2 separate regions of the Homo sapiens genome follow, and region 1 is linked to region 2. The links come from fine-mapping of genetic effects on gene expression. A gene starts in region 2. The other region holds a variant in brackets. All regions are shown on one strand. Distances are between the middles of the regions.

Region 1 (5,388 bases), 20 kb after region 2:
TTCATTTAAAAACTGGGCTGAGGATGTTATTTCATAACCAATCTCTGGTGAGTGTTTTAAGACTAATGGCTGAGTACATTTTGAAATAGGAAATAGAAAACGATTTTTTGGCGTAGGTTGTACCATGTCTATAGAATTAGATAATTTCTGTCTCTTTCTGACCTATTTCAAAGATCACTGGGTCCAGTGCTAAACTCCCCAGTTCACTGAGTAAGGAAGACACAGGGGAACAGACATAAGCAGGCTCATGAAGGTGGGGAAGGCTGGCCCAGATGCTCAGCTGGTCTCCCCAAGAGAAATGCATGCCCAAACATAGGCTTGGCTATTTCACCCAATGGGATATGAAGAAATAAAATATTGGAGAGTGAGAACTTCCCTGTTTTTCTCCTGAATTTTTGCTTCTACTAATAGGTTTAATAAAACTTCTACAAAAATATCTTTCCCCACTTGAGGGAGAGTTGGAAGGGAAGGAACACTTCCATATTTTCTCTCCAATCCATTCCTTTTTCAATCCTGCATTAGATTCTTAGGGCTGCCATAACAAAGTACCACAAACTGGGTGCCTTATTATTTCATAATTATTATTTCATAGTTCTTGAGGCTAGTATTCTGTAATCAAGGTGTTGGTTGGGCCATGCCTTCTTCTGAAGGCTCTAGGAAAGTATCCTTCATTGCCTCTTCCTAGCTTCTGGTGGGTGCTGGCAGTTGGCATTCATTCCTGGCTTTGCAGCTGCATCATACCAATCTCTGCCTCTGTCTTCACATGGTCTTTTGCCCACCTGTGTGTTTCTGTGTCCTAATGTATCTCTTCTTATAAGGACACAAGTCATTGCACCAGGGTACACACTAATCCAGTACGATCTTATCTTACATTGTTTTTTGTTTGTTTGTTTGTTTGTTTTTTGAGATGGAGTCTTGCTCTGTTGCCAGGCTGGAGTGCAGTGGCACGATCTCAGCTCATTGAAACCTCTGCCTCCTGGGTTCAAGTGATCCTCCTGCCTCAGCTTCCTGAGTAGCTGGGACTACAGGTGCATGCCACCACGCCCAGCTGATTTTTTGTATTTTTAGTAGTGATGGGGTTTCACCATGTTGGCCAGGATGGTCTCGATCTCTTGAACTGTGAACCACCCACCTCAGCCTCCCAAAGTGCAGGGATTGCAGGTGTGAGCCACTGTGCTAGGTCAATCTCATCTTACATTGATTACATCTGCAACGACCTTATTTCCAAAGAAGATCACATCCGTAGGTTCTCGGGTTTAGTACTTAAACATTTTTTGGTGGGGCGCAATTCAACCTATAATACTGTCTCATAGAAGAGATGGTAATTCTGGTAACTTAGAACTTGACATTCATTGATACATATTGATTGTTGGGTAGGCTCTTTATGCTTTATGGTTCAAGCTGGAGGATATGCCACACTTAGTTTACTTTTTGCATCCAGGCACAAGTGGCTCCATTGTGTTTGGTGTGGCTGAGTGGTATTTATACCTGGCAGGCCTACCCACATAGAAGAGAGAACCACTGTTCTCTGACTCAGATACAACTTCCTGCAACTGGGTGATCAATTCATATTGGGCCCAGGCTATGGAATCAGCTGCCTTCAGTTCAGAGGAAAGGGACTAGGAAGTCTCACTTCTGCTTCAGATCTAAACTGCGTTCTCCAATGCAGTTTACTAGAAACATCAAATTTGGAGGGGTGAAGCCTGCTGGTCTGGTTTAATCAGGTAGTGCTTCGTTTCCTATTTAGGTTGTACTCCTGCATATGTTCCAGTACTGCATACCTATAACTCACTAAAAGGAAGAACTTATGGAAGAAGTGGCATTTGAGCAGAGATCTGGACACAGTGAATTAGCCAGCCATGGTAAAGTGTTGAGGGAGAAAATTCCAGACAGGAAACAGCAAGTGAAAATGATGAGAGGTGGTAACAGAGAGAATCTACGTAAAGGTCAGAGCTACCTGAGAAGAGTGAACAAAGTGAAGTGGGTTAGAAATGAGGTCATAGAGGGACCCAGGGTATAGAGTATGTAAGGCCTTGTAAGACCTGGCAAAATCTTTGTACTTCATTCTAAGCGTGATGGGAAGCTCTAGACAGATTTTGAGCAAAGGGGTGACATTCCATGATTGAGGTTTGGAAGGGTCATCCTGGTGTGGTGTGGAGGAGAGAACATAGAGACAGACGGAGAGGTAATGGTGAGGAAAAGTCAGATTCAGAAGGCGAAAATGTCAGGCTGCGGCTGTTTGGATGTAGAGTGACAGATGAACACTGTTTGATTCCAAACAGTGGACAGATCATTAAGTAAAAATTCTTGTTAATTATACAGGTTGAATAGCACAAAGTTGTGTCTCCCTGGAGACAACTTCAGAATATGACCTTATTTGGAAATAGGACCTTTGTAGATGCAATCAAGTTACACTGAAGTCATACTCAATTAGGGTGGTCTCTAATTCAATGACTGGTGTACTTGTAAGAAGAGGGAAACGTGAACACACATGCACAGTCGAAAGAACATTGTATATAGATGGAGGCAGGAATTGGAGTGATGCAGCTGCAAGCCAAGAAATGCTAAGTGTTGAAAGAAAAACTTTAGACAAATTAAATGTAATACAGCTTGTTTGGGCAAATAATGATTTGTGAATTGGGCAGCCCTACCCCTTCAATCAGAACAAGCTCAGAGACAATCTAGCACCACACTACCATGTGGTTGGAGAGGATTTATGGAAAGAAAAAGGAAACTGACCTACAGAAATTGGAAGTGAGGTACAGAAACAGCTGGATTGGCTATAGCTTGGCATTTCTCTTATTTAAGCAGGGTTTGAACAGTTGGCTACCAATGATGTGCTAAATCTCTGTGACTGTTGGAAGAGTAAGTTACACTCTGTTTACAC[G/A]TACAGTTAGCTACTGTTCACTATGTATGGAGAAACCTTTAGGCTGAACTTGACGTCACCTAATCAGTTCTTCCTGCTTGCTACACTGCTATACAGACAAAAATCAATTCACTGAGACCATGGCATTGCAATAAAGACAGAGTTTAATTGACACAAGCCCAGGCATATGGGAGAACTGGAGTTATCATTCAAATCAGTCTAAGAACTCAGAGGCTAGGGTGTTTTGGGTTTTGTTTTGTTTTGTTGTTGTTGTTGTTTTTGAGACGGAGTTTCGCTCTGTCGCCCAGGCTGGAGTGCAGTGGCGCGATCTTGGCTCACCGCAAGCTTCGCCTCCCGGGTTCACGCCATTCTCCTGCCTCAGCCTCCGGAGTAGCTGGGACTACAGGCGCCTGCCACTGCGCCTGGCTAATTTTTTGTATTTTTAGTAGAGACGGGGTTTCACCGTGTTGGCCAGGATGGTCTATTTTCTGACCTCATGATCCGCCCGTCTCGGCCTCCCAAAGTGCTGGGATTACAGGCGTGAGCCACCGCACCTGGCCCATGTCAGACTTCTTTTACTGCCATAATCTTTGCAAAGGTGTTTTCAAACTTAAAATATGTAAAGAGGCAGCTTTAGGCTAAATTTAAGTCAAGGATTGCCAGTAAACACTAGATGCAGAAAGAAGCAAAAGAGGATCTTGTCCTAGTACCTTTAGAGAGAGCATGTCCCGGCAGACACATTGATTAGAGGTTTCTAGCCTCCAGCCTGGCCAGCGTGGCAAAACCCCATCTCTACTAAAAATACAAAAATGAGCCGGGCATGGTGGTGTGCGCCCGTAGTCCCAGCTACTCGGGAGGCTGAGGCAGGATAATTGCTTGAATATGGGAGGTGGAAGTTGCAGTGAGCCGAGATTACCCTACTGCACTCCAGCCTGGGCAACAGAGTGAGACTCTGTCTAAAACAAACAAGCAACAACAACAAACACCTAACATGCTAATTAAGATGAATATTGATATTTTGTTTTAGTTTGCTTTTCTTGAGTGCCATGACTTTAAGTCCTTAAGTCCTCTGAGCAGTAGCTCTTCTTTTTAGTTTTCTGTTCACACCCTTAGCTTTTTCACCATTGTTGTCTTTGTGTTTCCTCATTGATATGTATGAGACCTTTTCTACAAAAGGTTTAACTCAAGGCTTCATTTCCTACAGTGTAGTAAGGTAAACTATGTGTGGAAGTCTTTTGCAAACATTTCAGATTTTGTTTTTTATTTAAGCACAGATTTAAAAAAAAAAAAAAAGATATGGACATGTTTTAAAGGAATTTGAAAGAAAATTTCTCCAAAACTAGAATTGCTCATTTCACTTGCATGGTATTATAATATTGGAATGTATAACTGCAAAAATACTGCTTTCGGTAAAACTAAAAAAAGAAGAGATTCCTGTGGAATATATATCTTTTCATACACTATGCTTGCATATGAATTTTATCTCTTCAAAGAAAAAGCCATGCTTTTCTAGTGCTTCTATTCTATATGTATGGAGGAGGCAGAAGAGGAGACTTCAAAATTAGTGACTTTGCATAAGCACTGAATTTAGACTGAGATAATTTTTGGAATGAACTCTGAATTTAATAAAAATAAATACATAGTTTAAAATGTATAGTACATGGTATGCACTTTGAAGCTATGTACTTTCTTCAAAAAGTTGATGTTTAATGTTTTAAGTATAGAAATCATGTTTATAGTTTTTCTGATTACTTGCATTAAGCTAGAACTGATTCCAACTACTTATTCATACATCAAACTAAACTTTTAAAAACATGTGTTGTAAACATCATTGGGCTTTGTCTATGTGTATACACTGTCTTCCCAAATACAAAACCGAAAGTCATGGGCCATGCTTACCTACTTCATTTGTATAGAAGACTCTCAATTTTTGGATGGATTGTCTTAAAAAGAGTTATTTGTAAATTGTTCAAAAATCTGAGATGAATTAGCCGTGACTTAAAGATAAGGCAAAAATGTCACTGAATGTTCTTTCACTGTTATACTAATCAGCCTGCATGAGAGCATTTAGAGGTTGCAACTTTCGTTGAATTTACTTTTTTTTTTTTTTTGAGTTGGAGAGTTGGAGTCTCATTGTGTTACCCAGGCTGGAGTGCAGTGGTGCGAGCTCAGCTCACTGCAGCTTCCACCTCCTGTGTTCAAGGGATTCTCATGCCCAGCCTCACAAGTAGTTGGGACTACAGGTGCGTGCTGCCAAGCCTGGCTCATTTTTTGTATTTTTTTTTTTGTAGAGATAGGGTTTCACCATGTTGGCCAGGGTAGTCTTGAACACCTGACCTCAAGTGATCCCCCTGCCTCAGCCTTCCAAAGTTCTGGGATCACAGGCATGAGCCACTGTGCCTGGCCAGATTTACTCTTTACTGTTAACAGGCGCTCAGACTGCAAAGTTAGACGTTGCTTTCTCAAAGACTGTTGGGTTGTAAATTATTTTTTTCTCATAGAGAAACAAATATTATCTTTCC
Region 2 (5,388 bases):
AATTGTAAATTTCCTTTTTATTTTTATTTTTGTAGAGATGGGGGGTCTCTCTATTTTGCCCAGGCTAGTTTCAAACTCCGGGGCTCCAGGTATCCTCCTGCCTTGGCCTCCCAAAATGCTGGGATTACAGATGTGAGCCACCATGACTGGCCTGTAAATTTCTTCATATGGCCAGAGAAAGAAATATCAACTGGGAATATTTTAACCAGCTTCACATACTTTAAGCACTATATGGTCTTTGTTAATATCATTTTCCTCTTCTATATTGATGATGTTTGAAAACAAAGTGAACAGGCAATTAATCAAACAAAAAGACCTACAATGCCTTTCAGGGTCCACTGTGCTATCAAGTAAATAAATATTTTTGGAATAGCAGATTATTACACTGTAATGAGTTTAGCCTGAGAATACCATAGCCATTTAGAGTAGTTGGGGCTACAGGTATGAGCTGCTGCGCCCATCTTAGTAGCAACTTTTATAGAAGGTCACAGATAACGCCAAAACGCTAGCATCTGCTAGTGTGCACTGTATGCATGAGAGTCAGAGAAATTATTCCAGAAGAAAGACGAAAGGGGTGAAAGCTCTATTTAACTGCTCCCATTGCTTGATCCAGACACTTCTGACAGTCTGTTTTTACAGACATGGCAAAACAACACTTGGAAGTCATTTGAGAAAATATTCCTGGTATCACAGAGGTAGGCAAAAGGACAATTGATATCTGTTGAATATTTATGTTCATATTGATTAACTCTTTGAGGTTGCAGAAAGAATGAGTCTTCCTCCTCACTAGGCAAAGAGAAGACTGTTACAGAAGAGAGCATCTGACATGCAAAGCATAACACCGATAAGCGTGGCCAGGCCCAAGAGCAAGACTCAAACTTATTCTTTTTCTTAAAGAATCTAACCGCAGCCATGTTTTTCATTGTTATTTTAAGTGTGGGAGGGAACCCCTGCCTTGTTCTTTTTGAAAATCCTGATGCTTTGATAAAATAGTTTCTAAAATATTTCCTATCTACCTGCCCTGCTCTGTTCTGGCTATAATTACTAGGCTAGCCAAAAATAAACTCTCCCAAGTGTTACATCTAGTTGATTGTTGATTTCCTAGAGGGGGAAAAAATAAACTGTAGTAATTAATCATGGAAGCTTCTCTTTAAAAGAATGTTTACGTCATGGCTCAAGGCTCAAACTAGACCGGGTTTCTTATACTGCATATATTTTTGTTTTGTTCATTTTCTTCCTCTTTCCTCCCACCAAAAAACAAACAAACAAACAAACAAAGCAAAAAAAAACTGGAATCTGGTTTAAAGGGTCAAATGAGAGTTTTAGGTAGAAATACAAACTCTTGTTTCTTAATTCCACATTATATGTGGTTACTGTTTTGAGCTGGTGAAATTTGTTGAACACTTAGAATAGTCATCCAAGAACCAGGGGGGACAGAATTTTAAACCAAATAGTCAGTGATTTAGATATAGTTTTAAATTTTTAAAGCTTATTTGACTTTACAGTTCCATTGAATGTAGGATGCTCCATTCTTTTGAAGACATAGGACAATTTGTTTGTTTCTGGACCAGACAAATTTGGATTTCCTAGACCACCGAATAATAATAATAATAATTGCTAACATGTACTTAACTTGCACAAGGTGCAGTAACATGAATATCATGTGGATTGTCTTATGCAGCTCTCCAAATAATGCTGTAAGGTAGCATTGTGGAAACTGAAACCCCTAAAAGTTAACTTGGTGGTAGCTTGTAATTGAGAAATAGAATGTAAACCAAGGTGGTTATACTTAATGCCCTGTGCTCTTAAAACAGTATCATGCTGCCTCCTTGGAGGAATCCTTAATTCAAGTAGGAAGATTTTTCCTTATTACATCTTTGCGACTAAGTTACTGTTTTTATGACTTTAGGCAAATCAATTGAACTGAGCAAGGAAGGTCTTGATTCAATGATTTCTCAAGTCCTTTTTCCTTTTTTTTTTTTTTGTCAAGGGAGTGTCCTCTAGCTGAGTGAAGTCATTTTTCCTTGAATGACTGACAGAATGGCTTTGGTTCACCTGTAATTCACAGTTTAGCTGATCCAGTGTACTGTAAAGTCTGTTTCACTCCACCAGCCAACAAGGAGCAGGCGGCCGTGGTTTTCTCATGTTCTGGGGGAAGCTGTTTGTCAGTGTTAACCTGGCTAACTTTGGACAGCTGCAACAACAACATCTATCCCTTGGCATATGGTGTGTTTAGATGCTAAACACTGCCTCATCTGTGAGTACTTCAGTTTTTGTTTTTCACACGAGCCGGGTGAATATAAAAATAGAGGTAAATAAAAAGAAATAACTGAATCAGCAACCTGGAATTTTCTCTCCTCTGATTAAAGACTGTTGTTAACTGAAAATGCTCCACTAGTTGTTTGAGGGTTTAAGACAGAAAAAGTGGGATGGAGGTGTTTGATAATTTGGTTGCTATGCAACCACTTTACAATTATGTAAGCTCCTACCATATGAGGTGATACAGAAAGGGTGGTAGAGTATGCTGACGCAGTGAGCACACAGAAGACTTTTTTCATGTGACAGAGCCAGAGTCTGAGATCTGCAGTTGCAGAATATTTAGGTAAGAAGTAAATGTCACAAATTATAAAGGCCTTTATTTATAGCAAGAATATGGGATTTCTATTACAGAGTTGGATGAGCAAAAGCTCACCAGAAACAGTATTAGTTTCAAGGAAGGAAGACACACACATCTGTCCTTTGAATCAGGACTTACTCTAACCAAAATTCAGGAAAGATTTTTTAAAAAAGGAAACTAAGAATATGGTATACTTTATTATTATTTAATTAGCCTTGCCCAGTTGAATCTTTTTCAGTAATATTGTAAGGTAGGTGGTACTATTATCCTTATATAAATGCAAAAACGTAGGCTTAAGCGACATTCAGTAATTTGCTCAACATCATATAGTTGGGAGTAAATCTGGGCTGTGAACACAAAACTTTTAGTTCAAGTCCAGTATTGTTCTCATTACATTATGCTTCACAGATGATCATGTACCCTCAGTGTTTCTTTCATATTATACGTTCTATCTTTTATGAAATCCACTGATCTGTTGAAAATCTTATTTTTATTTGTTTTTGCTAGATATCAAGGGTTTATCTCTGACCCTTCCTGGTGGGTTTACTGAATTTCAGAAAAGGCTACCTAATTGATTTTATTGCATATGTTGTAATTTATTGCGTATGTCATTTACTCAAATATGCAATTTATTGCATATATCATTTTAACGTTAACTGAAAGAGAGAAAGTGTGCATAGTCTAAGAAACAAGACAATTGCAAGTTATTCAAAGTGGTCTTTACAATTTAGCCAGCCAAAATCTCTGACTCATGGATCTAATGCCAAGATGACAGCCTCACTGAGGAAGTTTCTTGGTGCGTCTGTTTACAGCTTGGCCAAAGGGCAAGTGGACACTTCTTTTCGAAGGGGTGGTATTATGCTCTCTGGATTTAGAAAAGATTAGTTAACATCATAAAGCTAGAGTTAGATCAGCATGATGTTATGTAAAACATAGTGTTCCCTAATCTTGAGTCACAATAAAGATTAGGTTTGTGTGTTAGGATGATGGTTTATCACATTGTGTAATGTCTGTATGGCTTTCACATATCCCGTATCCATTCATTCTCATTATGATCAATGAAGTAAACAGGGCATATTTATTCACTTCATTTTTGCAGATAATTGAAGTAATTAAAGGAAAGGAAGCTTAGGGACATTAAATGACTTACCTGAGGTCCCATCTGGGCAAGATGGCAAGCCAGGCATCAGCTTTATCCTCTAAATAAAGTTCCAGTCTTTTTTCTTGTCCCTTTGCTGTTAGAATCACTGGTGGCCTTACCACTAACCTTCCTTCTCCTCACTCCTTATCTTCAACTTACTTCTTGCGGGTACTCTTTGTACTTTTGTCATGGGGAACCAGGGCCACTGAAACTAAATTTGTAATTACATGAAGTTAGATTAGGTTGGTTAGATCTTAAAATTGAACTATATGCAAATAAACATGGGGTTCTGTGTCAATTTCAAACACTTGAATGTGGCTTTCAGAAAAATCTTGGATGAGAACTCTAATGTAGAACTCAAAGGAATTACAATGTAATTATTTCATAATTGTCCAGCTGAATTCAACAAACCACATACTAGTGCTAATTTATGCATAAATCACAGTATTAGATACTGTGGGAGACAAAATAAATAAATAACATATTGTCTCTGCTCCTTGGTGGCTTATTAATCATGGGAAAAAGAAGCACATTCTTTACTTTCTATTCTTTGTTCCCTCCCTTGTTGCATTAAGGATTCAAGAAACTCACCATAATAAGCTTTAGTAAAACAAGGTCCCAGGTGCTCTGGCCTTCTTACGTTTTACCTCCCCCTCTTCTTTTAAATAACCAAATACAGTATTTTGTGTCACCAAGCTACATTTGGCTATAGGAAATTTAGCTTTCTCCTCACCCCTAATATTTCTGAGAATTCTCAGGAAATATTTAAATGTCATGATGAGCACCTCTCAGTTCCACTTCTTACTCAAGAAGTTCCTCTTCTTGCTCAATATTCTTTTCATAATCACTTCAGACTCTCTCTCTTCATTGCTTTCTGTACAGGATGTTCCAAAGCTCTTTAATTCACTTTATTATAAAACAGTGCCAACACAGTCCTGATGTATCTGCTGAATCAGCTCTATATTGCCACAATAATGACATGTAGCCAGCAACCACAAAACCTTAGTGGCACACAACAATATATGCTTTTTCCTTGTGTGTCTTGGGTGGTCAGCTTTGTGGCTTTGCTGATCTCTTTTGGGCTTGCTGTCATGTCTAGGAGTCAACTGGCTGTCATCTGATTTAGTAATAGCATTGTGGCAACTAGGGAGGCTCAGCTGTGCTTTCCATGTCTCTTGTTTTCTAGCAGGCTAGCTGGTGCATGTTCTCATGGCAGAGGAAGAGGGCAAGCACAGGCATGCACACTCGCATGAGTGCTTTTCAAGATCTGCTGTATCCCATCACCTAGTCTCCCATTGCCAGAATGCTGGCAGACCCCAGCATCAGAATAAAAGGACACTTCAAATTCACATGGAAAAGGCTATGGAGTGAAAGATAAATTTAGGAAGATAACAAGTATCTAAAGATATTGAGGGGACCGTGTTCCTGCCATTTTGAAAAATCTACCACATACTGAGAAAAAGTGAGAATTACTTTAGGAAGGCAGTTACCACCTAAATAACTAGAGTTTATAGTTTCCAAAAAGCAATTGTTCACTGGTGATCTGAAATGTAATACAGATGAGATAAAATGTTTTTTTTCCATTTTGGAAAATGCCTAAAGGACTTTTTTGGACTTAAAACGTAACTCT

What was found.
Region 1: its variant is fine-mapped to the expression of LINC02471 in esophagus mucosa (GTEx, PIP 0.94).

The regions. Positions count from the first base shown.
Region 1 is chr12:40,173,696-40,179,083 of GRCh38, forward strand. All of the region lies in intron 1 of LRRK2-DT (LRRK2 divergent transcript), which reads right to left. Among named protein-coding and RNA genes, the nearest start is that of LINC02471, 20 kb to the left of the region's middle. The variant G/A (reference allele first, on the strand shown) is at 2,888.
Region 2 is chr12:40,154,087-40,159,474 of GRCh38, forward strand. LINC02471 (long intergenic non-protein coding RNA 2471) reads left to right here and starts at 2,153. Exons shown (of 2, transcript NR_146526.1): 1 at 2,153-2,257. It overlaps LRRK2-DT (LRRK2 divergent transcript), which reads right to left. Exons shown (of 9, transcript NR_186757.1): 5 at 4,492-4,632; 6 at 3,768-3,969.